3 separate regions of the Homo sapiens genome follow, and all the other regions are linked to region 2. Evidence: fine-mapped expression QTL. A gene starts in region 2. Each other region holds a variant in brackets. All regions are shown on one strand. Distances are between the middles of the regions. Region 1 holds the start of DNAH12 (dynein axonemal heavy chain 12). Region 2 holds the start of ARF4 (ARF GTPase 4). Region 3 has its middle 18 kb from the start of DENND6A-DT.

What was found. PIP is the estimated chance that this variant, and not a neighbour inherited with it, causes the effect.
Region 1: its variant is the best candidate, but not a certain one, in a credible set for the expression of ARF4 in activated naive CD4 T cells (Schmiedel 2018, PIP 0.88).
Region 3: its variant is the best candidate, but not a certain one, in a credible set for the expression of ARF4 in whole blood (INTERVAL, PIP 0.60).

Annotation. Positions count from the first base shown.
Region 1 is chr3:57,543,150-57,553,785 of GRCh38, reverse strand. It overlaps DNAH12 (dynein axonemal heavy chain 12), which reads left to right and starts at 9,442. Exons shown (of 74, transcript NM_001366028.2): 1 at 9,442-9,589. It also overlaps the pseudogene RNU6-483P. RefSeq lists an enhancer at 9,304-9,854. The variant A/T (reference allele first, on the strand shown) is at 7,462.
Region 2 is chr3:57,591,288-57,602,069 of GRCh38, reverse strand. ARF4 (ARF GTPase 4) reads left to right here and starts at 4,726. Exons shown (of 6, transcript NM_001660.4): 1 at 4,726-4,996. The coding sequence starts at 4,930. It overlaps ARF4-AS1 (ARF4 antisense RNA 1), which reads right to left and starts at 4,281. Exons shown (of 2, transcript NR_132370.1): 1 at 4,019-4,281; 2 at 1,154-1,327. It also overlaps a transcript of PDE12 not described here. RefSeq lists enhancers at 3,703-4,408, 3,923-4,482, 4,503-4,752, 4,763-4,832, 5,023-5,072 and 4 more.
Region 3 is chr3:57,705,704-57,716,485 of GRCh38, reverse strand. No RefSeq gene overlaps it. Among named protein-coding and RNA genes, the nearest start is that of DENND6A-DT, 18 kb to the right of the region's middle. The variant C/A (reference allele first, on the strand shown) is at 5,334.

The sequences.
Region 1 (10,636 bases), 48 kb after region 2:
TTGGTCAGACAGATTTATGCTTTCTTTGCTAGATGTTTTAAAGTCATAAAACTGTTGCTTCCGTGATATTTTTAATACTTGCTTGATTTGTGTATAAGTTAAAACTATGAGGTCAGGCTGCGGGGCTCCCCTGAAACCTTGCACACATTTTGATATGAGCTTTTGTCTTTGGCTTTGGGCCTCTGGATTCTGAGATCTAGACAGGTGGCCATGGTGAAGCCTGGAAACGTGTGTGTCTGTATCACCTGGACTACCAGCTGCATGTAAAGCTGAGTGCAGTATGGCCCTGTCCTCCCTGGCGCAACTCTGCATCCTTATCATGTTGGGAGGGGTTGGAACCTCCACCATCATCTTCACAGCTTTATCCTCTGTACTGGGCTCTATACCTGGTATGTAAATCCAGGACACAGATGGGCTCTGCCCTTCATAGCTGTCCTGGATGCCACATGGATACTCAGGAACAGGGTGACTGGGGTTGGAGAAGGACAAAGGGATATTGGGAAAAGTGCCTCTGTCCAATATCTGAAAGGCCTTGGTTAAGATGAGACTGGCTGATGCAGGGTTAGGTTAGTTTTGTGTTTTCTTTGCTCTTTATTTATTTATTTTTTGAGATGGAGTTTCACTCCTTTTGCCCAGGCTGGAGTGCAATGGCATGATCTTGGCTCAGTGAAAACCTCCACCTCCTGGGTTCAAGCGATTCTCCTGCCTCAGCCTCCTGAGTAGCGGGGATTACAGGTATGCATCACTACACCCAGCTAATGTTGTATTTTTAGTAGAGACAGGGTTTCTCCATGTTGGTCAGGCTGGCCTCAAACTCCCGACCTCAGGTGATCCACCCACCTTGGCCTCCCAAAGTGCTGGGATTATAGGCATGAGCCACCACGCCCAGCCACTTTTTATTTTTTTAAGACAGGGTCTCATTCTGTCACCCAGGCTGGAGTGCAGTGGCAACATAATAGTTCACTGGAGCCTTGAACTCCTTGGTCTCCTACTTTAGGTACACGCAACTACACCCAACTAATTGTTTTTTATTTGTTGTAGAGATGGGGGATCCCACTATGTTGCCCAAGCTGGTCTCAAACTCCTGGGCTCAAGCGATCCACCTGCCTCAGCCTCCCAAAGGGCTGAGATTAGCAGTATGAGATGAGACACTATACCTGGTGGCTTTGTTTTTTCAAAATAAATAACTTTCTAGAATGGAAGGGGCTTAATGAAAATAAATAAATAAATAAATAACATAAATGGCTAGTTTTGCTTTCCATAAGCAAATGAAATACAGTTGTTAAGAACAAGTAAATTAGATAACTGTGAATGGGATAAGCATCTACAAATAAACTTGTCATAGTTTCCAAAACTTTTTCAGTAATTTAAAATCTTAAAGTCATGCTGTATTAAATGAAGTAATAGATAATTATAAATTGTCCGCATTGGCTGAGCACAATGGCTCATGCCTGTAATCCCAGCACTTTGGGAGGCTGAGACGGGAGGATTGTTTGAGCCCTGGGCAACATAGTGAGACCCCATCTCTTTTTTTTTTTTTTGAGATGGAGTCTTGCTCTGTCGCCCAGGCTGGAGTGCAGTGGCGTGATCTCGGCTCACTGCAAGCTCTGCCTCCTGGGTTCATGCCATTCTCCTGCCTCAGCCTCCTGAGTAGCTGGGACTGCAGGCACCTGCCACCATGCCCAGCTAATTTTTTGTATTTTTTAGTAGAGACAGGGTTTCACCGTGTTAGCCAGGATGGTCTCGATCTCTTGACCTCATGATATGCCCACCTCAGCCTCCCAAAGTGCTGGGATTACAGGCGTGAACCACCATGCCTGGCCCGAGACCCCATCTCTTAAAAAAAAAAAAAAGTAAAATGTCTGAGTTATTTCTAAGTGAAAATACTGAAACATTAATTATTAAACTTAAGTTTATATACTTTGATGTCTTTTTTTCATTTTTCCCACTTATTCTCAAGTTCTGTTTTTTTTTCATTTTTTTGATGTCTTGTTTCATATGATATAGAAAGCTAAATATATTTGGATTCATTAATAACACTTTGAGAAAACATATCTTTTTAGAAATTATTAAGTGGCTGTTGTCTGCAAATACTGATATAAAACAATTCAAAATTACTGACTTCCTGGGTTGTCACTAGAAATTAGGGTTACTAAGAGTTAAAATTCAAAGTAATATATGTAATTAAAACTACTGAAAGTAAGAAATAATTTTGTGGCCGGGCGCGGTGGCTAATGCCTGTAATCCCAGCACTTTGGGAGCCAAGGCGGGCGGATCACGAGGTCAGGAGATTGAGACCATCCTGGCTAACACGGCGAAACCCCGTCTCTACTAATAATACAAAAAATTAGCAGGGCGTGGTCGTGGGTGCCTGTAGTCCCAGCTACTAGGGAGGCTGAGGCAGGAGAATGGTGTGAACCCGGGAGGCGGAGCTTGCAGTGAGCCGAGATCGCGCCACTGCACTCCAACCTGGGCGACAGAGCGAGACTCCATCTCAAAAAATAAATAAATAAATAAATAAATAATTTTGTATACAGAGTACGATAAAAACAACATATCTTTTTAGTGAGGAAAAGTTAAGTCATGAGTATATGTGCTTTTGTTTAAAAATTTTTGTTTTGGCTGGGCACGGTGGCTCACGCCTGTAATCCCAGCACTTTGGGAGACTGAGGCGGGTGGATCACAAGGTCAGGAGATCGAGGCCATCCTGGCTAACACGGTGAAACCCCATCTCTACTAAAAATACAAAAGAAATTAGCTGGGCATGTAGTCCCAGCTACTCGGGAGGCTGAGGCAGGAGAATGGTGTGAACCCAGGAAGCGGAGCTTGCAGTGAGCCGAGATTGCGCCACTGCACTCCAGCCTCAGCGACAGAGCGAGACTCCATCTCAAAAAAAAAAAAAAAATTGTTTCTAGCCACTGAAACAATAACAAAAAAAATGAAAAACTTTTGCCTAATTAAAGGTTATTTAAAGATTGTCTTAGAATAAATATATGGCACTTTGGGAGGCCAGGGCGGGTGGATCACCTGAGGTCAGGACTCTGAGACTAGCCTGGCTAGCATGGTGAAACCCCATCTCTATTAAAAATACAGAAAAAAAAAAAATTTAGCTGGGCGTCGTGGTACGTGCCTGTAGTCCCAGCTGCTTGGGAAGCTGAGGCAGGAGAATCGCTTGAACCCGGGAGGGGGAAGTTGCAGTGAGCCAAGATTGCACCACTGCACTCCAGCCTGGGTGGCAGAGTGAGACTCTGTCTCAAAAAATAAAAATAAAAATAAATGTATGGAAAAATGTATACAAAAATAAACGGATATAAAAAGTTGGAGAAAAAATTTAAAAACTGTAAGAGGTTATAAAAGGCTTATGGATTTCTTATGTGGTCAAAGTTGACTGAGACTGGATCTATTTGTTTATAAGGTTTTATTATTAATATTTATTTATTCATTGTTTGTTTTGTTTTGTTTTGTTTTTAAAAGCAGGGTCTTGATCTGTGACCCAGGCTGGTGTATGGTGGTGTCGTCATAGTTCATTTGTAATCTCAAATTTCTGGGCTCAAGCAATCCTCTTGCCTCAGTCTCCCAGGTGGTTAGGACTACAGGTATGTAGCCATGCCTGGCTAATTAAAAAAACTTTTTTTTGTAGAGATGGGGTCTCGCTAGCTGTGTTGCCTAGGCTGGTCTTGCACTCCTGGCCTCAAGAGATCTTCCCACCTTGGCCTCCCAGAGTGTTGGGATTACAGGCGTGAACCACCATGCCTGGCCTTATGGTTTTATTGAAATTTGCTTTAGTAATACACTGATACAAAACTAAATTTGGTTCTCTCATTTGAACATGATTTTCTGGTGGTATTAATAAAAGATAGTAAGCCAGGTATGGTGGCTCACACCTGTAATCCCAGCACTTTGGGAGGCCAAGGCAGAAGGACTGCATAAGCCCAGGAGTTTGAGACCAGCCTGGGCAACATGGCAAAACCCTGTCTCTACCAAAAATACAAAAATTAGCTGGGCATGGTGGTTCATGCCTGTAGTCCTAGCTACTCTGGAGGCTGAGGTGGGAGGATGATTTGAGCCTGGGAGGCTGAAGTCGCAGTGAGCTGAGATTGCGCCATTGCACTCCAGCCTGGGTGACAGAGCCAGACCCTGTCTCAAAAAATAAAATAAAATATAGTAAAAGATTTTGTTCACTTTTTGAGTAAATTGCAAAAGAAAGAAGAGAGAGAGAGAGAAACAGATTGTGTGCCTCATGCTGTCTTTAAACAATTTTTAAAAAAATTTTTTGGGTCTTACTCTGTTGCCCAGGCTGGAGTGCAGTGGCATGATCTTGGCTCACTGCAACCTCCATCTCCTGGGTTCAAGCGATTCTCCCACGTCAGCCTCCCAAGTAGCTGGGACTACAGGCGCGCACCACCATGCCTGGCTAATTTTCGTATTTTTTGGTAGAGACGGGGTTTCACCATGTTGGCCAGGCTGGTCTCGAACTCCTGACCTCAAGTGATTTGCCTGCCTCAATCTCCTAAAGTGCTGGGATTACAGCTGTGGCCCACTGCACCTGGCCTGATTAAATTTTTTAATTAAAAATATTTTTTATAAACATAGTCTCACTCTGTTGCCCAGGCTGGAGTGCATTGGCTATTCACAAGTGCAGCCATAATAGCTCACTGCAGCCTTGAACTCCTGAGCTCAAGTGATCCTCCCACCTTGGCCTCCTGAGTACCTGGAATTATGGGCACAGGCCACTGCATCCGGCCCTGCTCTCTTTGTTAGATCTTTTCATTATTTGGAAAACTGAGTCTTCTCTCTATGAAAAAGTGAAGGATTTTGCTTTATAAAATCTTTTTTTAAAAAAACTATGGAATGCTTCACAAATTTGTGTGTCATCCTTATGCAGGCACCATGGTAATCTTTTCTGTATCATTTCAGTTTTAATATTATGTGCTGCCGAAATGAGCACTGCTTTGTAAAATCTTTTAAATTTTCACTTTGGCTAAATGAATAACTGTTATTTTACAGTGACCTATGATCTTCTTTTGATCAAATGTCTTAAAACTTTCCTCGTTTGTTTTCATTTAAAAACAATTTTTTTGAGACCGTGTCTCACTCTGTCACCCAGGCTGGAGTGCAGTGGTGCAGTAATGGCTTACTGCAGCCTCGACCTCCTAGGCTCAAGTGATCCTCCCCCCTCAGTCTGCCAAGTAGCTGGGCCCACAAGTGCACACCACCAACGCCTGGCTAAGAAATATTCTGTAGAGACAGAGTCCCCTGATGTTGCCCAGTCTGATCTCAAACTCCAGGGCTCAAGTGATCTTTCCACCTCAGCCTTCCAAAGTGCTGGGATTACAAGTTTGAGCCACTGAGCCTGGCCTTTTCTATTTTAATTGAGTGTTTTTATCCTTTGACATACTTGACAGGCTTCCCAAAGTCAAATTTCAAATTCTAAATTAAGTCTTTTCGGCCTCAAACTAACCTTAGGTTATCCCAGAATGGCCCCTGGAAGCCTAAGAGAGACGTATTAGGCTTATTTGATATGTAAATTATACAGGAAACCTTTGCATTACATTTATATGAACATGTTATTAATATGTGTTTTAAAAGTATATGAGATTCCTAAAAGTCTGATGTGTCTTTTTGTATGTTATCAGTCATAATTATGGCTACTATGTAAACTTGTTATAGACTACAGAAAAAAACAAATTTCCTTGTCAATCGCATCATTGTTGTAAACTCTTACCAGGTCTTTCACCATAGCCATTCTAAATCTTGTTGTTCGTAGTAAATTGCTTTATTCTAATGTTTTTTCTAAATGATCTTTGCAAGCAAATATAATCCTAAAGCATTGTGTCTTCAAAGAGGTTTATGAGAAGGATAAAAAGTCTGATACATACTCTGGAATACAGGCCTCTGTTGATTATTAAGTTGGACTGAATAAGAACTTGAGAAACTCCAATGGTAAAAACTGGACTTAAAATTGCTAATTTATCAAGTAGAACAAAAATTAATTACATGGGACGGAACTGATGAGGACTGAAATGATTTTAATGACTTTTTTGCTTGAAACGTTGCTTTTTATTATTATTTTCTTTCAGAGTTAAGAAAACTTTTTTTCTCTGCATTATCTGTAGTTTTATAGCAATTTGGTAACTTTTTGGTATATTTTGTGAGTAAAATTGAAATATTTATCTTTCTCTCTACCTGATATCTCCAGAATTAGGAAACTATTCATGAGTATTCTTGTTTTATGGCAATATTATTTATTTGTATAAGCTCAAGAGGAATCTGTTCTTGTAAAAGAACACACTTTTGGAAACATTGGCTATTAAAAAGGATGTACATCGGCCAGGCGTGGTGGCTCACACCTGTAATCCTAGCACATCTAGAGGCCAAGGCAGGAGGATTGCTTGAGGCCAGGAGTTCAAGACCATCCTGGCCAACATTGTGAGACTTTGTCTCTATAATAAAATTTTTTTTTAAAGTAAAAAAAAAAAGGACGTACATTGTATCAGTCAGGGTTCAAAGTGGGAAGCAGAACCACTAAGATATAATACATATCATCTATATCTATATCTATATCTATATCTATATATGTGTGTGTGTATGTCTATACATATATATATATTTTTTTAAACAAAGAATTGGCTTATGCAATGGAGGGGGCTGGTTAACCAAGTCCATGGTCTGTAGGGCAGACTATCTGTCAGGAAGGGAAGAACCAGAAAATGGAGAGCAGTTATAGACCCAGCTGCTGTTTGGAGTTTGACTCAGGGCATGCCCATCTCTTTATTATTATTTTTTTAATTTTTAATTTTTTAAAATAGAGACAGAGTTACACCATGTTGCCCAGGCTGGTCTCAAACTCCCTCAAGAAGTCTGTCTGGCTCGGCCTCCTAAGGTGCTGGGATTACAGGGTTGATCCACTTTGCCAGGCCTAAATCTTTTTAAAAGGATTTCTACTGATTGAGTCAGGCTCACCCAGGATAATCTTCTTAGATCAATGTCAATTGACCAGGGACTTGAATTGAGCTGTAATCTCCTCACAGCAGCCCTAGATTAGTGTTTGATTAATGACTGGGAGAAGGTGGGTATATCATACACAAGATTGCTGCCTTCTCTTTAGTTCTTCTAATTTAGCCTAACCAAATTGACATTCAGGCTAGATATGGTGGCTCATGCCTATAATCCCAACACTTTTAGGAAGCTGAAGCAGGAGGATTGCTTGAGTCCACTAGTTTGAGGCAAGCCTGTGCAACATAGTAAGACACTGTCCCAACAAAATATTTTTAAAAATTAGCCGATGTCGTGGTGTGTGCCTGTAGTCCCAGCTACTCAGGAGGCTAAGGTGGGAGGATCCCTTGAGCCCAGGAGTTTGAGGATGCAGTGAGCTATTGCTGTAGTCTCAGCAATGCACCAAGATGTAACAGTTTCTCATTGTCTGAGATAACACCTGGAGTTATTTGTCCCACCTCCAAG[A/T]TGATTAAGGAGCGCAGACCCAAAGGTTAGTTTAGAACGAACGTTTAATAAGAGAAAGAAGAAAGCTCTCTGCCAGCAGAGAGGGGGACCTGAATGGGGTGCCCCCTATGAGGCTGGGGTCCAGGGTTTTTATGGACTGGGAAGGGGAAGGAATGTGCTTCGTCCCCCGACCCCGCTACCCTGGGGCTTGGCCTGGTACTAATCAGGAGCTGAAATGATGATTCATAGATGCTGCTTAGCTTGGCTCGGGACCTATCAGGAACTGAAGAGAAAGTTTGGCCCTGGACCTTGGCCCAGGACAAATCAGGAGCTGAAGTGATGATTCCTAGAAGCCGGACTTACAATCCAAATAAAGGAAAGTAGAGTGCCCACTGGAACCTACTGGAGCCCACTGTGCCCATACCCACAAAAGGAAAATAAACTTTTTTTTCCCTGGGAGCCCATTGACTATACAAAGGACAAAGGCATTTCTTTGTTCCTTTATGTGAGTGAGGAGGAGGTCTGTGCAAGTTTTTGTCCAAATGGGCTGGAGATTTTTCTATCTGTGGAGCCGTGGGCATGTCTCCAGGCACAACACCCTGTGCTAGTTCCCTTATTGGTGCCTGCCGCTTGAATTTTTTCCCAGGCTGCTTTTTATGTTATGTGGGGATGAGGCACTGACCCATGGGCTGGGGGTTCTCTGGGGACCCTTCCCTTGCTATCTACCTAATGCAAAATCTAGCTGACTCCTTTCACTATGATGGTGCCGCTGCACTCCAGCCTGGGTGACAGAGCGAGAGCCCTGTCTCTAAAAAATAAACCCTAACAAATTGACATTAAAAAAACTGTCTAATCTGTCATAGGACTGAGTTTAAAAGAGAAAAGGTGGCATGGTGCAGTGGTTCACGCCTGTAATCCCAGCATTTTGGGAGGCCGAGGTGGGCGGATGACCTGAGGTCAGGAGTTCAAGACCAGCCTGACCAACATGGAGAAACCCCGTCTCTACTAAAAAAAAAAAAAAGAAAAGAAAAAAAATTAGTCGGGTTTGGTGATGCATGCCTGTAATCCCAACTACTTGGAAGGCTGAGGCAAGACAATCACTTGAACCTGGGAGGTGGAGGTTGTGGTGAGCACTCCAGCCTGGGCAACAAGATCAAAACTCTGTCTCAAAAAAAAAAAAAAAAGTCACATTATTTATACAAGTATTTTATTTTCTACAGAAAGATAATTTGCTTTTACAAACTACCAGGAAGTTTTACTTGTTCATTCACTCGCTTAAATGACATTTTAGAGCACCTACTCTGTGCCAGACACAATAGTGTAGGCTGTACTCTCATTAAAAAAAAAAAAAAAAATTACGTAGCAACTGGCACATAGAAGGTGCTCAAATATTTGTTGAATGAATATGCTGTTAACACACCGGCAGTATTCACTTCCCTAATTTAATTTTGGCACATAGTATTCTCGTAGGCTATTATCATTTAGATGTAGTATGCATTGTGCAGCTTCAAACAGCAAAATTTCACATCTTTCTCCCAGCATACCACTAAATTCACACACCTTAACCTGTTTGATTTTGCCAAAGAATTCCTGGAAGTGCTGTGTCAACAAATAGCAAATCTAGAAGCAAGATAAATTATATTGCTGATTAGTTACAATATTTACAGGGTGTCACTAGGGGACATTTGAAGACTTGATTCTCTTGCTGAGAGTGTTTCCATAAATCTGTTTTCCAACAGATCTAAATTTCCAGTCTTGCAGTTTTCCACAGTTTGAAGATTCTAATTTCCTGGTCCCCTTCCCAGGAAAGGCAGTTAGGTTAAAACAAACAAACAAAACCTCACACCCCATTTACTTGAGTAACGAATTATTGTTGTGACAGGTAATCCTAACCCCTTGCAGCTTGGCAACTGCCTCTCCAGGCAACCTTCACCCAGCCCCTCCAGCTGGGGCCGCCACAGTTTCCATGGCGACGACGTTGTTTCCAACCGGTCAGCGACCGCCCTTCTCCAGCTACTCGTTTGAGAGCCGGTGGCGTTCCGGAGGTTTCTCCCTCGTTATCCCCCTGCCTTTCACCTGAGGAGAGGCTCTGACTGTCTCTCTCTCTCTCTGGCGTCTGCGCAGCGGGGAAGTAGTGAGAAACAATCAGGTACTTGTTCTCTGCTGTTCTCTTCCTTTCTCTCCCAGGGCAGGTATCGCGATTTGGGTGCCAACTTAAACACTCTTTCAAGGCAGGAATCTCCAAATCCTGTAGGCATTCATGGCAAATATAGTTGTTATCACAGTACAATTTTTTTTTGAGACGGAGTCTCGCTTTATCGCCCAGGCTGAAGTGCGGTAGCGGGATCTCAGCTCACTGCAACCTCTGCCTCCCAGGTTCAAGCGATTCTTGTGCCTCAGCCTCCTGAGTAGCTGGGATTACAGGCGCCTGCCACCACGCCCGGCTAATTTTTGTATTTTTAGTAGAGATGGGGTTTCACCATGTTGGCCAGGCTGGGCTCGAACTCCCGACCTGAGGTGATCCGCCCACCTCGGCCTCCCAAAGTGCTGGGATTACAGGCGTGAGCCACCGCGCCTGGCCCACAGTAAAATTTTTGAGCATTTACATGACATTTTATATTTGCCATGCATCAAGTATGCCTATTTTTTGCTTGATCATAGCATCACTTTCTTGGAAGGCAGCAAGACTAAGATATCATACTGATGTTTAAAAATATTAATGATTGGCTGGGGGCGGTGGCTCACGCCTGTAATCTCAGGACTTTGGGGGACCGAGGCGGGAAATCATCTGAGGTCAGGAGTTCGAGACCAGCCTGGCCAACATGGTGAAACCCTGTCTCTACTAAAAACACAAAAAAGTAGCTGGGCGTGGTTGCGCACCTGTAGTCCTAGCTACTCGGGAGGCTGAAGCAGGAGAACCACTTGAACCTGGGAGGCGGAGGTTGCAGTGAGCCAAGATCGCGCCATTGCACTCCAGCCTGGGCGACAGAGCAAGAATCTGTCTCAAAAAAAAAAAAAAAAAAAAAAAAACCATTAATGATGTTAAATATCAGCTTTTACTGGGAAGGGGATCATCCCTCAACAACTGGATTTGTTGTGGTGGTGGTGGTAGTGGTTTGCATCTCGGGAAAATTTTGCACCCAGAATGCTACAGCTGTAGGGATATTTACAGAGCATCTAATTCAATTCCTTAGTT
Region 2 (10,782 bases):
AAAAATTCAAAGGCAGGCCATGCATGGTGGCTCACACCTGTAATCCCAGCACTCTGGGAGGCCGAGGTGGGCAGATCACTTGAGGTCAGGCATTCAAGACCAGCCTGGTCAACACAGTGAAACCCCATCTCTACTAAAAATACAAAAAAAAAAAAAAATTAGCCGGGTGTGGTGGTGTGCACCTGTAGTCCCAGCTACTTGGGCAGCTGAGGCAGGAGAATCACCTGAACCCAGGAGGCAGAGATTGCAGTGAGCTGAGATAGCGCCACTGCACTCCAGCCTGGGTGACACAGCGAGACTGTCTCAAAAAAAAAAAAAAAAAAAAAGAAGGAAAGAAAAAAGGAAGAGATATGGTTTCCTTAATAAGCTTGCATTCTAATGAGACATAACAATCAGCAAAAATAATTATAGTTGTACCTGGGTATTTGGGGAGATTGGTTCCAGGATCCCCGTGATACCAAAATCTGCAGATGCTCAAGGCCCTTACAGTTGCCATTCTGCATCTGCAGGTTCCACATCTGCTATTGGCTGAATCTGTGGGTTTGAAACCTGAAGATACAGGGGGTCTGCTGTCTGTACATTATTAAACCCAAGGGACTGGAATGTAAATTCCATATACATATTTGTGACTAAAAAGATCTCACTAAGAAAAATAGTCAGAGGCTGGGCGCGGTGGCTCACACCTGTAATCCCAGCATTTTGGGAGGCCGAGGTGGGTGGACCACCTAGGTCAGGAGTTCGAGACCAGCCTGGCCAACATGGTGAAACCCCCTCTCTGCTAAAAATACAAAAATTAGCCGGGCGCAGTGGCATGTGCCTGTAATTCCAGCTACCCCGGAGGCTGATACAGGAGAATCGCTGGAACCCAGGAGGCAGAGGCTACAGTGAGCCAAGATCGCCCCACTGCACTCCAGCCTAGGTGACAGAGCAAAAAAAAATAAAATAAAATAACCAGAGATGAGGAAAACATACTACCTAGTGTAGTATGTTATGAGTACATGCTTTTGAGCCTGGGCAACTTTATACAACACTGTGTTCAAAAGCGATGATTAAATGAAGTACATGGCTTAGCAAGTGATCAATAAACTATAGCAATTTTTCTTGTAGGGCTCAATTTCCTCATTTTTAAAAATAAGAAAGATTCTCTTCTGGGTTTGTATTGATGAAAGGTGAATAGAAAAATATTTTATTTTTAAAATATTTTTTAAAATAGAAATGGCATCTCACTATATTGCCAAGGCTGGTCTGGAACTTCTGGGCTCAAGTGAGTCTCCCATCTTGGCCTCCCAACATGCTGGGATTACAGGTGTGAGCCACCATGCCTGACCTAGAAAAATAAAATAAAATAAAAATAAATTTGGGGTCTGGGCACGGTGGCTCACACCTCTACTACCAACACTTTGGGAGGCCAAGGCGAGTAGATCGCCTGAGCTCAGCAGCTGGATACCAGCTTGGGCAACATGCTGGTCTCTACAAAACGCCAACTCTACCAAAAATACATAAAATAGCTGGGCATGGTGGAATATGTCTGTGGTCCCAGCTACTTGGGAGGCTGAGGCAGGAGGAAAAAGGGAGGGGAGGGGAAGGGAGAGGAGGGAAAAGGGAAGGGAAAAGGGAACAGAAGGGGGAAGGGAGGGGAAAAGGGAAAGGAAAGGAAGGGGAGGGAAGGATGAAGGAAAGAAAAGAAAGAGAAAGAAAGAAAAGAAAGGAAAGAAAGAAAAAGAAAAGAGAAAAGAAAAGAATTTGGCCGGGAACAGTGGCTCAGGCCCATAATCCCAGTACTTTGGGAGGCCAAGGCAGACAGATTGGTTGAGCTCAGGAGTTTGAGACCAGCCTTGGCAACATAGCAAAACCCTGTCTCTACAAAAAATAACACTACTTAGCCAATGTGGTGGTGTACCTGTAGTCCCAGCTACTTTGGGGGCTGAGGTGGGAGGATCACTTGATCCCAGGAGGTTGAGTAAGCCGAGATGATGCCACTGTACTTCAGCTTGGGTGACAAAGTGAGACCCTGTCTCAAATAAATAAATAAATAAATGTAAGAAGGTAGTATAGTGTAGTGGTTAAGAGTGTTAATGGCTGGGTGCACTGGCTCACACCTGTAATCCCAACACTTTGGAGGCTGAGGTGGAAGGATTGCTTGGGCCCAGGAGTTCCAGACAGGCCTGGGCAACATAGCCAGAATCCACTTATTTATTAAAAAAAAAAAAAAAAAAAGAGTGTAAATACCAGTTAATACCAGAAGAAATGGGTTCTTATAGCTGTTCCACTGCTTTTAGCTGTGTGACCTTGGGCAGAATATTTAATCTCTCTGACCCTGATTATTTTTATCTGTACAATAGAGATATTACAGTCTGCCATTAACATCCTGTTTTGTAATTTACATTAGCCACTTGATGTGTAGTGTATTCTTACTGAAAAATCTGTTTTGACAACTTTTGTTTTGGTTCAGGTTTTGGAGGCTAGAGATGGAGAACAGAATTCTTTCGATTTATTTTGCATAACTAAACAGAAAACATGGATTAAGATTTGGAATAAGTTACAGGGAGGAGGGCTCATACGGTTTGTCTTTTGAATTTAAGAAGACCCTAAGAATTAGTTGAAGATTGTTTTAAGGAATTCTACTATATAAAACTAAAAACAGACATAAGGCCTAAAGTGTGAAAGGAAAATAAATCTTGGGGCCTCCACCTCACTAAGCTAAAGAGAAAAGTCAAGCTGGGAACTGCTTAGGGCCAACCTGCCTCCCATTCTTTAAAAAGTCACCCCTCTGCTCACTGAGATAAACGCATATCTGACTGCCTCCTTTGGAGAGGCTAATCAGAAACTCAAAGGAATGCAACCATTTGTCTCTTATCTATCTATGCCCTGGAAGCTCCCTCCCCACTCAGAGTCTTCCTGCCTTTGCTTTGAGTTGTCCAGTCTTTCCAGAATGAACCAATGTTCATCTTACATATATTGATTGATGTCTCATTTCTCCCTAGAATGTATAAAACCAAACCGTGCTCTGATCACCTTGGGCACATGTCTACAAGACCTCCTGAGGCTATGTCATGGACGCGTGTCCTCAACTTTGGCAAAATTAACTTTCTAAATTAACTGAGGCCTGTCTCATATTTTGGGGGTTCACAAAAGGATACAAGAAGGTCTTGTCACTTAGCAAGCTTCCAAAATGCAATTTTGAGTTATTCAACTGCTAAGCAACTCTTTACATGTATCTCCAATGCAAAGGAGGGTACTTCTGAGTAAAGAAGTTTTTGGGGTTTTTTTGTTGTTGTTGTTTGTTTTTTTAAGACAGTCTCGCTCTGTCGCCCAGGCTGGAGTGCAGGGGCGCGATCTCCGCTCACTGCAACCTCCGCCTCCCGGGTTCACGCCATTCTTCTGCCTCAGCCTCCGGAGTAGCTGGGAGTATAGGCACCCGCCACCACGCCCGGTTAATTTATTCTATTTTTAGTAGAGACTGGGTTTCACCGTGTTAGCCAGGATGGTCTCGATCTCCTGACCTCGTAATCTGCCCGCCTCGGCCTCCCAAAGTGCTGGGATTACAGGCATGAGCCACTATGCCCGGCCAGAAGTTTTTGCTTTTAATTGCCCAGGGCCACTCCTAAGAAATAACAGTCTCTGAAGGGTAGATAAGGTAGTGCTACCAAGAGAAGCGTTACTCAGCAAGCCTTCAAAAATATAAAAATAACTTACTGTTTCTGAAAGTTTGCAAGTTTTTCTTATTCAACCCCATCCTATGGAAATATACCAGTTGGAATAAGCAACTACAGAACCACATAGGACGGCACTACTAGAAAAATAGATTAAATCTTTATCCTGGCAATGAGTCTAATACATTTATCATTGCTGTGAATTTTAAAAGGTGTAGCAGGCCGGGCGCGGTGAGTCACCGCGCCAGGCCCGATCATAAACACTTTTAAAGTGAAGAGGCTTTCCGCTTCCTCAACATAAGGAGTAAATCTTTAATGCTGCTTCTAGGAAAAAAAGTACAAGAAAAGCAAGACTTCCTCCTTGCCTTCTCTTTAAAAAGCAACAGCCGATGAACACGTGTTGGAGCGCTCTCGCCTTGACAGAATTAGAGATCTTCAGAATCACTTGGCGTGGTGGTCGAAGCGTCTAGCCCTAGCTCATTAGGGTGCCACAGTTTCTCGGCCCACAAGTCAGCTTTTAACCACTTTTCTCCGCAAAAGACCGGACCGGTCTTCATGCGTCAACTAAAGCAAGCGTCTGGTCCCGTGTGTGAAACGTGTAAGTTCATGGCATCAGGGAATACCCATCGCGCGTACCGTAATAGAAGAGGGCGAGGTTCCTCACCTAACCCATAATGCTCAGCTCGCCTTTCCGGAAGCAAGGACTATCACCCCGACAATACCTTCATCCGGGCGGAAGCGTCTCACCCTGAGTCTGATTTGGCAGTGACGAAGCGAGGTATTGTGGGACTTTGTCCGTCTCCCAGTACGCATGTGCCTCAGCCGGCCTCTCCCGGCTCCTGGGGCCACGTCCGGGCGGTGGCGCCGTCGAGAGATGCTCGTCAGCGAAACTGGCCAATCCCCTGCAGGCGCAAGCGCAGTGGCTCGGGCGCACCGGAAGCGCAGGGGGATGGGGCGGCGGTGACGCGATTCTGTCCGCGTTGGAGGGGCCGGGCCGCTGCTGGAGTCGCCGCGGCCGCCGCGTGACGTGGCACAGCCAGAGCCTAAAGGCTAGAGCCGGAGCTGCCGCGCCAGTCGCCTAGCAGGTCCTCTACCGGCTTATTCCTGTGCCGGATCTTCATCGGCACAGGGGCCACTGAGACGTTTCTGCCTCCCTCTTTCTTCCTCCGCTCTTTCTCTTCCCTCTCGTTTAGTTTGCCTGGGAGCTTGAAAGGAGAAAGCACGGGGTCGCCCCAAACCCCTTCTGCTTCTGCCCATCACAAGTGCCACTACCGCCATGGGCCTCACTATCTCCTCCCTCTTCTCCCGACTATTTGGCAAGAAGCAGATGCGCATTTTGATGGGTGAGTGAGGGGCTGCGAGTCAGGCGGGACCTGGGAAAGGCAGGGTCTCCACAATTGGGGTGGCCTCTGGGCCTGTTTTTTTCCTCCGCCCGCTGTGGTGGGGGAGGGGCGCCGGGTCGGGGGTCGGAAGGAATTCTTAAGGGGGAACAATGGAGCGGAGGGTGAGCGATCCCCCCCGCCCCCGATCTGTCGCCAGACGAGACAGGGACAGGGCTTCGGGCAAGATTTCTTTCTGGACTCGGCTTTTTCTCCTTGATCTTATTGAAAGCTGGACAACATTGGGCAGAGATGTGGGGAAAGCCAACTCTGGGAAGCAAACACTTGGCGAGGCCCTTTCTGGGGGTGCGATCTGCATACCTTCTTGCCCGGGTGTGGACAGCGGTCAGGAGGGAGGCAGAGCAACTCCAGCCTTTTCCCTCCCCTTCTGCGTTTCGTGTACAGTCCCTGCATACTCCATTGGTATGTAAGCCAGCGGCCACCCGGAGCCTGGAGCCGCCCGGGGCAGGAAGTTGCGGTGGCCAGGGAGCACCCAAGGTTTCCGAAGAGTCTGGAGTCCTTCAGCGCTCACTTTGCTAAACTTGGCCTTGCGCTGGATTCCGTTTCAAGTTTTTCGCTCCTTGTTAATCTCATTCTCCGAAAACTGAGCTTATCTTCTATTTCTTTGACTATTTTCAAAAACTTTAAATGTGTTTGGTTTATTCTCCTAGGTTTTTAAGCTTATTTTTAGGCGGTCTAAGGTCTAATGCAAAAAAATTTTAGAAACGAATTTTTAAAAAATACCTGATAAATTTTCAAGTAACTGAACATCATGACGCTGAATTTTATGGTAGTCTTGTTAAATAGTAACTACAATTTTTTTAAAATTTCTTTTTAGAAAGTTGACTTTTTAAAAACTACTTTTTAGGGGGCGTGTTTTTGCTCAGCTGAGGGAGAAGGGCTGTCAGTTGGCTGAAGTAAGCAACCGCTCCCGGTTACTGTAAGCAGTCTACATCACAGCTGAGCTCCATGGACTAGAATAACGCTGAAAGAAGCCCCTCTAACTTTGAACGTTGAAACTTGTTGGTTCATTAGCTTGTTTTCTACCGGAGGAGGTTTTATTTTTCTCTTCCTTTTTTTTTTTTGCAGACGGAGTTTTGCTCTTGTCACCCAGGCTGGAGTGCAGTGGCGCAATCTCGGCTCACTGCAACCTCCACCTCCCGGGTTCAAGAGATTCTCCTGCCTCAGCCTCCCGAGTAGCTGGGATTACAGGCATGCAACACCACGCCTGGCTAATTTTTTGTATTATTAGTAGAGACGGGGGTTTCACCACGTTGGCCAGTCTGGTCTCGAACTCCTCACCTCAGGTGATCCACCCACCCAGGCTTCCCAGAGTGCTGGGATTACAGGCGTGAGCCACCGCGCCCGGCCGGAGGTTTTATTTTAGAGCTGTACTACCATCAAAACTTGCAAACACAAGCTTCTGTAATATTTCAAGGTATATAAAGAGTAACAGTATATACATTGGCTCATGTTTATTTTCCTCTTAGCGTACTTACACTTTGTGAATCAATTGTTTATGAGTCATTCATAAAGTATTTTTTCTTTCAAAGTTTCTTAGATTTCCTTTGTCAAGAGGACAGAATTATTTTAGGAGGGCAAGCATATTTAAGTTTTCAGTGGCTGAAAGTTGGCAGTCTGAAAAAGGATCGGAAGTTAATGGGAGGACTTCGGACTGTGATAAATGAATTTCCAGTCTGTTCGTTAAAGAGATTTAACAATATATGGTTATGTTCCAGAACACATAGTATATTGGTCTTTTTACTTAAGATTTATTGTAAATGAATTGCTATTTTTCAATTCCTTAGTCTTTTGTGATTGATGAAAGTATCAGAGGGGCAAGGAATATAGAAGTATGCTACCAGCATTTTCATATATTTACTATATTGGGAGGCATTTCCCTCCACCCCAAAAAATGATTCGAAGAAAATGGGAGAGAAAAAATATTTAAGTTTCTGCATTTGTGTGGAGGATTTAGGAGTTACTTGTTTTTAATGTTTTATTACTCAGGCATGCTATCGTTTTGCACTTTAATTTTGGGATAATCAGTTTTCCTTGACTAAAAAACACTTCAGTCACAAGATCGACATTTATGGTAACTCATCAAAGGAAGTATCAACGTACGAGGGAGATATGTGCATGAACAGGGAAAAAGGTGGTTTGGAAGTTTGATAATTCTTACATTTTTCTGTCTGGCTTTATGAGTGACTGACAGCAAAAATAATAGATCACTTTTAAAGTGTCTGCCCCATTCAACTGTTGGAATTATTAATGTTTTACATTAGTGTGCTTCGTTTTTCTTTATAAAGCTTAGATAAGATTCATGCCCTCCTGAGTCAGTGTTTTATTCAGACTTTACCATTTTAAAGTATAAAGGAGATAGCAGTTAGCTGATGTGTCAGGTTTGCCAAACTACTATGGAGAAGTTTTAAATTTAATTCGTACACCTGCTGTTCTTCAAAAGTTCAAGTAACTTTAAAAGATATTGGAAGTTAGCTTGTAGTTAACTGTAATTAAAAAACCAACACAGTGTATCAAATTTAACATCATCTGAACTATTGATTGACAGAAATTATGTACTAGTTATAAGGGTAAGTTATGCAAGTGATGATATTGCCCATACTGCTCGAGTTAGGAAGCAATAGCTTCTGGCCAGGTGTGGTGGCTCACGCCTATTATCCCAGCACTTTGGGAGGCCAGGTTGGGAGGATCACATTGAGGCCAGCCTGGTCAACATAGCAAGACCCCGTATCTATTTGAAAAAAATAAAAATAAAGCAATAGCGTCTGTATTTTATTTTGTTTATTTTTTTTGAGATGGAGTTTCACTCTTGTCTCCCAGGCCAGAGTGCAATGGCATGATCTAGGCTCACTGCAACCTCTGCCTCCTCAGTAGCTGGGATTACAAGCGCCCGCCACCAAGCCCAGCTAATGTTTGTATTTTTAGTAGAGACGGGGTTTCACCATGTTGGCCAGGCTAGTCTCGAACTCCTGACCTCAGGTGATCCACCTGCCTTGGCCTCCCAAAGTGCTAGGATTACAAGCATGAGCCATCACACCCAGCCAGCTTCTGTATTTTGTATATATTTTTTAAATAATTATGTTTTTTTTCCTTTTGAGTAGCTGAGACAACAAGGACATGCCATTAGACCTGCCTGGCTAATTTTTGACATTTTTTGTAGCAAGAAGGTCTCACTATCTTGCCTGTTCTTGGGCTGAAGCGATCCCGCCCACCTCGGCCTCGAAAAGTGCTAGGGTTACAGGGCGAGCCACTGAGCCTGGCTGCATTGTCCTATTTTAAGTCTGGTTTCTGTATCTTGATCCATGATAAGATGTAATGTTGTTAAGTGAATCCTTAAATTATGTATATATCCAAAAATACTAATGTGTTCTGCAGAGGAATTACTAATTCTGATCTCTTTACTTTGAACTTTCCAGTTCTTGCCTGTTGAAAAGCTGAAAAAGTGTTACTTTTAAAAAGTTTGCTGATATCAGTGTAGTGTAGTATGCCAGTGTAGTTCTGTATTGTCTTGAATGTGACTGTGGTTTTGGGGGTCTAGAGATGTTCAGGAGAAAGGATCCTATATTTGTCACTTTAAAAAATATTACCAAGCTAAAGAGTGGTGTTTTATATTTGTTTCTTAGCATATTTTGTAAATCCATCTATTTATGTAATTTTTTTATGTTTTTCCTCTTGATTCTAAAAGTAGTATGTGTTCCTTCTGTTACATTTAGAAAACAGGTAAAAGAATAAAGTGATAATTACCTATCTGTAATTCCACTATTCTGTCATATTTACTCTCAGCCTTATTTTTATTTTTATTTTTTGAGACAGGGTTTTGCTCTGTCACCCATACTCTGGGGCACATACAGGTGGCATGATCATAGCTCACTGTAGCCTTGAACTCCTGGATTCAAGCAATCCCTCCTGCCTTAGGCTCTGGAGTAGCTAGGACTACAGGCGCCACTATGCCCGGCTAATTTTTAAATTATTTTGTAGAGAATGGGGGTCTTGCTCTGTTGCCCAGCTGATCTCAAACTCCTGGGCTCAAGAGGTCCTCCTGCCTCGACCTCCCAAAGTGCTAGGATGACAGGTGTAAGCCACCACACCTGGTACACGCTCAGCCTTTTAAGAGGAAGTTTTTGTTCCTCTAAAATTGTAGTTGTGATGTTTAGTTTTGTGTCCTCTCTTTTTGATTTAGCTTATTACAAGCATTTTCTCAGGTTATTGGTTGAACATATAACTGCCAGCCTTTAAAAAAACAGGCTCTTCTGATTATGTGAATATAGGAAACAGAAAAGGCAAAAATCCTGTTTCATGCCACTGGCTGATAGGTACAGCCATCCTTAGATGCACCCTTTTGCATTATTATAGTAGTGCAATAGGCTGTCGGAAACTTTGATAATTTGCTGCTAATTAACTGATAAAAATGTAGATGTTTCTCATCCGTGTGTAGAAGCAGAACCTAAGTTCACATTTTTCCGTATAACTGGTGGCCTGAGTTTCAGTTTGGTTGGTCAAGCATCTGATGAATTTGATAAAAAATATTTGAGATGGAGTCTCACTGTGTCACCCAGGCTCGAGTACAGTGGTGCAATCTCAGGTCACTGCAACCTCCGCCTCCTGGGTTCAAGCAATCCTTCTGCCTCAGTCTCTCCAGTAGCTGGGATTACAGGCCCCCTCCCACCATGCCCGGCTAATTTTCATATTTGTAGTAGAGAGGGTTTCACCATATTGGTCAAGCTGGTCTCAAACTCCTGACCTCAGGTGATCCACCTGCCTCATTCTCCCAAAGTGCTGCGATTACAGGCATGAGTCACCGTGCCTGGCCAAAATATTAAGATACAGTATGTCCACCAGAAAAACCTAAAGGCAGGATGGCAGCATGTAAATAGTATTTGAGGTCTCTGGCATCAGAACTAGGTTTTTTGGTTTTGGCTTTTTAGAAAATTTTTTAATAAAAAAATCAAGATATAATACATAGACCATAAAGTTTACCCTGTTAAAGTGTACAGTTCCGTGGGTTTTAGTATATGTATTCAAAGTTGTGTAACCATCACCATTGTCTAATTCCAGAATTTTTCATCATCCCTCAAAGAAACCTGATACCCATTAGTAATAATTCCCATTCCCCTTTCTTCCCAGCCCGTAATCTGTTTTCTGTTTCTATGGGTTAATCTATTCCGGACACTTCATTTAATGGAATCATGATTTATGGCCTCTTTGTCTGGCTTTTTTCACTTGGCATGATGTTGTCAAAGTTCATTCATAATGGCCGGGCGCGGTGGCTCACGCCTGTAATCCCAGCACTTTGGGAGGCTGAGGCGGGCAGATCACGAGGTCAGGAGTTCGAGACCAGCCTGGACAACATAGTGAAACCCCATCTATACTCAAAATACAAAAATTAGCCGGGTGTGGTGGCAGATACCTGTAGTCCCAGCAACTCAGGAGGCCGAGGCACGAGAATCCCTTGAACCCGGGAGGTGGAGGTTGCAGTGAGCTGAGATCGTGCCATTGCACTCCAGCCTAGGTGACAGAGTGAGACTCTGTCTCAAAAAAAAAAAAAGAAAAGAAAAGAGAAGAAAAAAGTTCATTCATATTATAGCGTATATTAGTACTTCATTCTTTTTTTTTTCCTTTTCATTAAATTCACATAAGCACCTCATTTCTTTTGATGGCCAAATAGTAATTACATTGTATGGATAAACCACATTTTATTTATCCATTCATCAGATGATAAAAATTAGGTT
Region 3 (10,782 bases), 110 kb before region 2:
TCTCTACAAAAAAAAAAAAAAAAAAAAATAGCTGAGTGTGTAGAGTGTGTCGGTAGTCCCTGCTGCTCGGGAGGCTGAAGTGGGGGATCACTTGAGTCCTGGAGGTCAAGGCTGCAGCAAGCTGAGATCGCGCCACTGCAGTCCAGCCTGGGGGACAGATCAAGACCCTGTCTCAAATTTTAAAAATTAAAAATAAATAAAATTGAATGAAAAAAAAGAGAGACAACAGAGAATCTGTGTGTGTGTGTGTGTGTGTGTGTGTTGTGTGTGTGTGTGTGTGTGTGTGTATACAGAAGAAAAGCCACATAAGGACACAGCAAGAAGGCAGCTGTCTATAAGCCAGGAAAAAAGGCCTCACCAGAAATCTAACTCTGATAGCACCTTGATCTTGGACTTCTAACCTCTAGAACTGTGAGAAAATAAATTTCGGTTGTTTAAGCCACCCAGTTCGTAGTATGTTGTTATGGCAGCCTCTGAACTATTTTCACTCACAATATCTCTGATGCCACATGTGTGGGTTTTTTTCTCATGCCAACGAATTCTCCAGCTCTCCAGATACCAACTGAGTGTCCAACAATTCAGTTCAATTCTGACACTCTCCCTGGAGTGAGCATGAGATCACACAAGTTATAGGCTCAGTCCCACAAGACTGCTCCCCCTTCAGATGTCAGTTGTAAGTCCCAGCTTGCCACCTGTACTTTTGACCAACCAGCTATAAACTGGAGGCTCCCATTACTCCCTCGTTATGTTTCATGATTTGCTAGAATGGCTCACATAACTCAGGAAAATGCTTTATTTACTATTAATGGTTTGTTTTATTTTATTTTATTTTTTGAGACGGAGTCTTGCTCTGTTGCCTAGGCTGGAGTGCAGTGGCACGATCTCAGCTCACTGCAACCTCCGCCTCCCGGGTTCAGATGATTCTCCTGCCTCAGCCTCCCGAGTAGCTGGGATTACAGGCACCCACCATCACGCCTGGCTAATTTTTGTATTTTTAGTAGACACGGGGTTTTGCCATGTTGGCCAGGCTGGTCTTGAACTCCTGACCTCAGATGATCCACTCACCTCAGCCTCCCAAAGTGCTGGGATTATAGGCGTAGGCCACTGCACCCAGCCCTATTAATATTTTTTTTAGATATAAAAGATATAACTCAGAAACAGTCAAATGGAAGAGATGAATAAGGCAAGGTACGGGTTGTGGGGAGGGCTTCCATGCCTTCCCTGGGAGTGCCACCCTCCAAGCATCTTGATGTGTTCACCAACCCAGGAATCTCTCTGAACCTTGTTCTTTAGGGTTTTTATGGATGCTTCATTGTGTAGGCATGAATGATTAAATCACTGGCATTGGTGATTAATTGGATCTCTGGTTCTTCTTCCCTCCCCACAGATCAGGCAGTGGGGCTAAAAGTTCCAAGCCTCTAATCATGTCTTGGTCTTTCTGGAAACTAGCCCCAATCCTGAAGCTATCTAGGGACACCCACCCACCAGTCGTCTTTTAGCATACACAAAATATTCTTATGTCTCCAGAGATTCCAAGGGTTTTAAGAGCTGTGTGCTGGGAACCGAGGTCATAGACCAAATATTTATTTTTATTATATCACTCAGCTCTAGCATACAATAAAGCAACTATCAGATCCATCTAAAGTAGGTCTTCCTCACCCCCACTAATCTATCTTAGCACAACGTTTACTTCTTCACATTTATAATTCATTATTTTATATGTTTGTTTAAGTTCTTTTTTTTTTTTTTTTTTTGAGACAGAGTTTCATCCTGTCGCCCAGGCTGGAGTGCAGTGGTGTGATCTCGGCTCACTGCAACCTCTGTCTCCCAAGTTCAAGCAATTCTCTTGCCTCAGCCTCCCGAGTAGCTGGGACTACAGGCATGTGCCACCATGCCTGGTTAATTTTTTGTATTTTTAGTAGAGATGGGTTTTCATCATGTTGGCCAGGCTGGTCTGGAACACCTGGCCTCAAGTGATCCGCCTACGTTGGCCTCTCAAAGTGCTGGGATTACAGGCATTAGCCACCACACCCAACCTATTTATTTAACTTCTTTTTACCTATTTCCCCCAATAAATAGTAAGCTCTGTTGTGGCTGCAGCTATGTCTGTTTTGCTCACTGTTGCAACTTCAGCAAGTTGTCAATGAACATTTGTGAATAGAACTTCAAAGCACACATTCAGCAATGAATGAATGAAACTTCAAAGTGCATATTAACCTGTGGGGGAAAAAGCCCTACAGATAAACAACCTTTATTCTTGAAAATTATTCTCAATAAATATGTGCCTAAAACAAAAAAAAAAATTTTTCGAGGCAGGGTTGCACTCTGTTGCTCAGGCTGGAGTGCAGTGGTGGGATCATGGCTTGCTGTAGCCTCGACTCCCTGGGCTCAAGCAATCCTCCCACCTCAGCATCCAGAGTAGCTGGGACTACAGGTGCACTCCACCACACCGGCTATTTTTTTATTTTGTAGTGACAAGGTCCTACTGTTTGCCCAGGCTGGTTTCGAATTCTGGGCTCAAATGATCTTCCTGCCTTGTCTTCCGAAAGTGCTGGGATTACAGGTATGAGCTACTGTGCCTGGTCAACATTTTTCTTTTTTTTTTGAAATATATATATAACATCACATTTACCATTTTAAAATGTACAGTTCGGTGGCATTAGGTACATTCCTGTTATTGTGTAGCTATCACCACTACTCATCTCCAAAACTTTTTCATCATCCCTAACTGAAACGTACGTCCATTAATTAGATAACAACGTCCCATTCCCTCCTCCCTCTAGCCCCGGGCAGACACCATTCTACTTTGTCTCTATGAGTTTGTTTGCTCTAGGTACCCCATATAAGTGGAATACAATATTTGTCTTTTCCAGTTGTTACAGTTGGTAGTTAGTTAGACATGAGCAGGGAAGGAGAGAGCCCCCAACATCCAGGAACGTCGCAACCATCAGGCACTTGTTAAACCGCGCCTAATGGTCAGGCGCTTGTTAAACTGCCTCTCTGAAATAATAATTAGTTGGCCGGGTGTGGTGGCTCAGGCCTGTAATCTCAGCATCTGCCGAGGTGGGCAGATCACCTGAGGTCAGGAGTTTGAGACCAGCTGGGCCAACATGGTGAAACACCGTCTCTACTAAAAATACAAAAATTAGCCAGATGTGGTGGTGGGGGCTACTCAGGAGGCTGAGGCAGGAGAATCGCTTGAACCTGGGAGGCGGAGGTTGCAGGGAGGCGGAGGTTGCAGTGAGCTGAGATCATGCCACTGCACTCCAGCTGGACAACAAGAGTGAAACTCCATCTCAAAAAATAAAATAAAATAAAGTAAAATAAAATAAAATAAAACATCTCAGGAGTTGAGTGAGTAGCCTCAAGCATGTGCACTAAGAGGCAAAATGGCAGAGTTTAACTGGTATGTGACCTTCCTTAGGAACACTTGACTGGTAAGGGAAAAATGCCTCAAGTCACTAAGAGGCAAAATGGCGGAGTATAAACACACAACTGGTAAGGGAAAAATGCCTCAACTGAGCATGCATACAACTTCAGTAAACACACTGCGCATGTGGCCCTTCTCAAGTGCTGGCAGGCCGCTTTGCATGCCGACAGCCTACCCCAAAAGGGAAGAGTCAGGGCAGAAGGGACACAACCCTCCAGAAGCATGCCAATGCATAAAACTCCAAGTCAGACCTGGTGTGGTGGCTCACACCTGCGATCCTAGCACTTGGGGAGACTGAGGTGGGAGCATTGCTTGAGCCCAGGAGTTCAAGACCAGCCTGAGCAACAGAGCAAGATCCCATATCCCATCTCAAAAAAAAAAAAAACAAAACTCCAAGTCAAAAGTCAAACTGTGTGCTTGATCTCTCAGGTTGCCCACTTGAAACCTCTTGCAAGTGTACTTCCTTTTGTTCCTGCTCTAAAGCTTTTTAATAAACTCTGCTTTAAAACTTGAGGCCAGGAGTTTGAGACCAGCTTGGTGACATAGGTAGACTCCTGTCTCTACAACAGCAAAAAGTCTATTCATTTTCAGATGGACATTTGGGTTGTTTCCACTTTTTGGCAATTGTAAATAAAGCTGCTATGAACACTGGTATGCAAATATCTGTCTGAGTCCCTGCTTTCACTTCAAGTATATACCTAGAAGTGGAATTGCTGGATCATATTGTAATTTTGTGTTTAAACTTTTTTATATTTACAAATATTAAATTTATTATAACTAAAATGAATGTGATTGTTCTCAGATTTGGCCACTTTATAGCTCTGTTTAAGGAGGGGATTTTTTAAAAAAGAGAATAATGCATCATAACTCGGTCAAGGCCGGGCACGGTGGCTCACGCCTGTAATTGCAGCACTTAGGGAGGCCGAAGCGGGTGGATCACTTGAGGTCAGGAGTTCAAGACCAGCCTGGCCAACATGGTGAAACCCCATCTCTACTAAAATACAAAAATTAGTTGGGTGTAGTGGCAAGTGCCTGTAGTCCCAGCTACTCGGGAGACTGAGGCAGGAGAATAGCTTGAACCCAGGAAGCGATGGTTGCAGTTGCGCCACTGCACTCCAGCCTGGGTGACAGAGTGAGACTCCATCTCAAAATGAACAAAAAAAAGAAAAAAAAACTTGGTCAAATTACTTTCACATTAAGAAAAAAACTTCTGAATGGGCATGGTGGCTCACACCTGTAATCCCAGCACTTTGGGAAGCCAAGATGGGCAGATCACTTGAGCTCAGGAGTTCACGATCAGTCTGGGCAACATGGCAAAACCTCATCTCTACAAAAAATACAAAAATTAGCCAGGTGTGATGCTGTGCCCCTGTAGTCCCAGCTACTCGGGAGGCTGAGGTGGGAGGATGGCTTGAGCCCAGGAAGTGGGGGTTGCAGTGAGCTAAGATTGTGCCACTGCACTCCAGCCTGGGCAACAGAGCCAGATCCTGTCTCAGAAAAAAAAAAAAAAGAAAAAGAAAAAACAAAGTTCTATAAAGGAAAACAAGACAAGCAACTCTTCAGTTTCACATAATTAAGGAAAAGGAGAAAGCATGCAAGCTGCATCATAGCTAAATTTATGAATATGTTTAATTTTTTGCCAGGCGCGGTGGCTCATGCCTGTAATCCCAGCACTTTGGGAGGCCAAGGCAGGTGGATCACTTGAGGTCAGGAGTTCGAAGCCAGCCCGACAAACATGGTGAAGCCCCGTCTCTACTAAAAATACAAAAATTAGCTGGGCGTGGCGGTAGTCCCCGCCACTTGGGAGGCTGAGTAATCCCAGCTACTCGGGAGGCTGAGGCAGGAGAATCACTTGAGCCTGAGAGGTGGAGGTTGCAGTGAGCCGAGATCACGCCACTACACT[C/A]CAGCCTGGGTGACAAAGTTAGACTCCATCTCAAAAAAAAAAATTTTTTTTTTTGAGGAAACTCCATAGTATTTTCCACAGAGGCTGCACCATTTTACATTCCCCTGACAACAAACAAGTGTTCCAATTTCTCCACATCCTTGCCAGAATTTAATATTCCCTCCCTCCCTCTCTTCCTCCCTTCTTCCCTTCCTCCCTCCCTCCCTCCCTTCCTTCCTTTCTCTCTCTCTTTCTTTTGCTATCCTAATGGATGCGAAGTGGTATCTCATTGTGGCTTTGTCTTGCATTTTCCTAATGATTAGTGATGCTGAACGTCTTTTCAAGTGTTTATTGGCCATCTGTATGTCTTTTTTGGAGAAATGTCTGTTCAAGTCCTTTGCCCATTTTTGAATTGGGTTGTTGGTTTTTATGTTGTTGAGTTATAGGAGTTCTTTATATATTCTGGATATTAATTCCTTATCAGATAAAGGATTTGCAAATATTTTCTCCCATTCTGTGGGTTGCCTTTTTACTCTGTTGGTGGTATCCTTTGATATATAAAAGTGTTTAATTTTGATGAAATCCAATTTATCTCTTTTTTCTTTTGTTGCCTGTTCTTTTGGCATCATATCAATAAATCATTGCCAAATCCAGTATCGTGAAGCTTTTCTCCTATGTTTTCTTCTAAGAGCTTTACAATTTTAGCTCTTATGTTTATGTCTTTGATCCATTTTGAGGATTCAGGGCAGTAGGGGGTAATGGTCTTACTCTGTCACCAAGACTGGCATGCAGTGGCATGATCATAACTCACTGCAGCCTTGAACTCCTGAACTCAAGTGATCCTCCTGCCTCGGCTTTCCCAGTAGCTGAGACTACAGCCATGGGCCACCATGCCTGGCTTTGAATTGTTTTTCATATATGTTAAAAGGTAAGGGTGCAACTTCATCCTTTTGCATGTGGGTATACAGTTTTCCAGTACCTTTGCTCTTGAAGACTGTCCTTTCCCCATTGAATGGTCTCAGCACTGTAGTCAAAAATCATTTGACTATGCAATGGTTTGTTTCCGGGCTCTGTATGGTACTCTATTGGTCTGTCTTTATGCCAGTACCACACTGTTTTGATTGCTGTAGCTTTGTAGTAAGTTTCGAAAACAGGGAGTATGAGACCTCTACTTTGTTCTTTAAAACCAAATTTTTAATCCACTCTCTCAAATTATTTGTAGGGAGTTGCCATCTCAGTAACACTGTAAAAATTGTACTTCACAGCAATTATTTCTAATGAGAACAAGTCCTCTTTGTAAGTTCTTGACAAGAAGATGTCTAGGAATAACACTGCTAGTTTTGAATATTTGTATTTTCTTTACTTCCTGTAGACAAAGCTCTTACTCACAAGATAATTAGAATTTGCAGTGTTTAAGTCTTTTGTTCAGGCTGGCACTGCCAAAGTGGGAAATCAGCCAAAGAAGACTTCCTGGATTAAGTTTAACTTAGGTAACTAACGTTTGCACTCCCAGACTCCATTAGTTTGCCCAGAAGAGAGAAGAGAACAAACATGTTCAAAACAAGCTGTTTGGGATTTTGCTCAGGCAAAGTCGTTGCACATTCAAGAAAAAACAAAAGTCAATGAGAGAAAAACCATGACAGAAAGTTGAAGCCAAACTCTGAGAACTGAGGCAGAGTCTTGGCTGTTGTACCTCTATAAATGATTTTTTAAAAGAGAGAGAGAGAATCACACTTATTTTAGTGTGGTCTTGGAGATTCTCTCTCCATTTCAGGTTGTGCTGAAGAAAAATTATAGTTCAAGAAACTTCTTGGTATTTTGCTTCTCTTCTAACAGAGGTAGGGTGGGGTAATAAGAAAGAATGTTGGACTGTGTCTAAGAGGTCTGTTTTCTAGTGGGATTTTGCCACTGACTTGCTATGGGAACTAAGTCACTGGCTCGCTGAACTGTAATTTCCTCCACACGTGTTGACAGAATTGTCACATCTCCAAAAACTCTTACAGCTTTAATAATATTACAGATTTTTTAAACCTCTTCTAGATATTATTTATTTTTATTCTGTAATTCTCAGGGAACACTGAATAACTTATTTGCATACATGTTTTATCTGTCCTGCTAAATTATAAAGTCCTAAAAAAATCTTACTCAGTTTGCTCTCCCTCAGAGTTTAGCATTGCATTTTTCACAAATGAAACAAATATTTGAAGGAGGGGAGAATGAATTGAGCTATCTCTTTTTGGTTTTTGTTGTTTTTTGTTTGTTTGTTTTTGTTTGAGACGGAGTTCCCTCTGTCGCCCAGGCTGGAGTGCAGTGGTGTGAGCTCAGCTCACTGCAACCTCTGCCTCCCCAGTTCAAGTGATTCTCCTTCCTCAGCCTCCTGAGTAGCTGGGATTACTGGCATGCACCACCACAGCCAGCTAATTTTTGTATTTTTAGTAGAGACTAGGTTACACCATGTTGGCCATGCTGGTCTCAAACTCCAGCCTCAGGTGATCCACCAGCCTCGGCCTCCTTCCAGACCTCAGGTGATCCACCAGCCTGGGATTACAGGCATGAGCCATCACGCCCAACCGCTGTCTCTTTTTGTTTTGAAGATTATTTTTCATGAGAATTGTTTATTTTTTGGTGAGATAAATATCCTTTACTAGGTGATAATGATTATATTATAGTAATGATATTTCCCCTATTTTATCCTATTAAAAATAATTTGTTGGCCGGGCATGGTGTCTCACACCTGTAATCCCAGCACTTTGGGAGGCCGAGGTGGGCGCATCGCCTAAGGTCGGGAGTTTGAGACCAGCCTAACCAACATGGAGAAACCCCGTCTCTACTAAAAACACAAAATTAGCCGGGCATGGTGGCACATGCGTGTTATCCCAGCTACTCAGGAGGCTGAGGCAGGAGAATGGCTTGAATCCGGGAGGCAGAGGTTGCGGTGAGCTGAGATTGCGCCATTGCACTCCAGCCTTGGCAACAAGAGCGAAACTCCGTCTCAAAAAAAAAAAAAAAAGAAAAAAATTAGCCAAGGATGGTGGTAACTGCCTGTAGTCCCAGCCACTCGCCTGAGGCAGAATGATCGCTTGAACCCAGGAGGCAGAGATTGTAGTGAGCTGAGATGGCGCCACTGCACTCCAGCCTGGGCAACAGAGTGAGACTCTGTCTTAAAAAAAAAAATTGTAGATTATTTTATTTTAAAATTTTTGTAGGTACACCGTAGGTATATATACTTATAGGGTACATGAGATATTTTGATATAGGCGTGCAATGCATAATAATCACATCATGGTAAATGGGGGTATCCATCCCCATCTACTTTCCATACCCATTAACCATCCCCACTTCCCCCTATGCCTCCACTACCTTCCCCAGCCTCTGGTAACCATCCTTCTACTCTGTCTCCATGAGTTCAATTGTTTTAATTTTTAGCTCCCACAAGTAAGTGAGAGCATGTGGTTTGTCTTTCGGTGTCTGGCTTATTTCACTTAACATAATGACCTCCAGTTCCATCCATATTGTTGCAAATGACAGGATCTCATTCCTTTTTATGGCTGAATTGTACCCCATTGTATCTGTACCATATTTTATTTATCCATTCATCTGCTGATGGACCCTTAGGTTGTTTTTGTAGATTATTTTAGGATATAAAAATCCAGAAACAATTCATTAGGTAACTATTGTATCATATGGCTTTTTTGGGGGCAAATAAACTCTAAGGGAAGATTCCTTTTTTATTTTTATCTTTTTTTGATAGAGAGTCTTACTCTGTTGCCCAGGCTGGCATGCAGTGGCGCGATCTTGGCTCACTGCAACCTCCGCCTCCCGGGCTCAAGCGATTCTCCCGTCTCAGTTTCCTGAATAGTTGGGATTACAAGCGTGCACCACCAAGCTGGGCTAATTTTATTTTATTTATTTATTTTTAAATTTATTTTATTTTATTTTTTGAGACAGAGTCTCACTCTGTCGCGTAGGCTGGAGTGCAGTGGCGTGATCTCCACTCACTGCAAGCTCCGCCTCCCAGGTTCAGGCCATTCTCCTGCCTCAGCCTCTCAACTAGCTGGGACTACAGGCGCCCGCCACCATGCCCGGCTAATTTTTTGTATTTTTAGTAGAGATGGGGTTTCACTGTGTTAGCCAGGATGGTCTTAATCTCCTGACCTCGTGATCTGCCCACCTCAGCCTCCCAAAGTCCTGGGATTACAGACATGAGCCACCGCACCCAGCCTCAAATTTTTTGTATTTTTAATAGAGACCCGGTTTCACCATATTGGCCAGGCTGGTCTCAAACTCCCAACCTCAGACAATTCGCCCACTTCGGCCTCTCAAAGTGCTGGGATTACAGGTGTGAGCCACTGTGCCCTGCCGGGAAGATTTTATATAAGCACTTGGCATGGTAAAAGACTAATGTAATGAATCAGGACTTAAAAGACTAATGTAATGAATCAGGACTATTAACCATGTGTAATCATATTAGTCAGGACTCTTACAGTTGCACATGTCAGAAGATCTAGCTCAAGCTGGCTTCAATCTAAAAGGAAAATTTATTGACTCATGTATGTGAAAAGTTCAGCCTTGGCTGAATCCAGGGTTGAATGATGTCATTTGGACTTTGTCTTCCTCTTTCTATTTCTTGGCGTTTTCTTTGTTGGGTATGCTCTTCCTTTAGAGTGATAAGGCTCCAAGCTTATATTCTATCCTTTCAGCAATCCCAGTGTCAGGACAGTGCCTCCTTCAGAACAGTTCTAATGACCCCCAGAGTTGAGTTGCATTGTTTGATCGGGTCATGCATGGGGATATGCCTGCACCCATCATTGTTCTAGGTATATAGAATACACTGATTGTCTAGGCCTGGGTTACATGCGCATGCTGGAATCCAGGAGTAGTGCTTACCTCCTCTTGAACCTCATGGACTGAGATCACTGGGGAGGTGGCTCCCCATTAGAAAATTGGGGACTTTTTTATTTATTTATTTATTTATTGAGACGGAGTTTCCCTCTGTCTCCCAGGCTGGCTTGCAGTGGCACGATCTCGGTTCATTGCAGTCTCGCCTCCTGGGTTCAAGTGATTCTCCTGCCTCAGTCTCCCGAGTATCTGGGATTACAGGCGCACACCACCACTCCCGCCTAATTTTTGTATTTTTAATAGAGATGGAGTTTCAACATGTTGGCTAGGCTGGTCTCAAGCTCCTGACCTCAGAGGATCCTCCCACCTTGGCCTCCCAAAGTGCTGGGATTACAGGTGTGAGCCACTGTGCCTCGTCGAAAACTGGGGACTCTTAAGCAGAAGAGGGTACAATGGATGATGGGCAAGTAAAGGCAGTGGGACTCCATAACTAAACTAACAACAACAACAACAACAAAATCCTAGTTTTGCAAAACAGAACTTTGTGTTGTTGTTTGAGACAGGGTCTCACTCCCATTGCCCAGGCTGGAGTGCAGTGGGACGATCTTGGCTCACTGCAGCCTCGACCTCC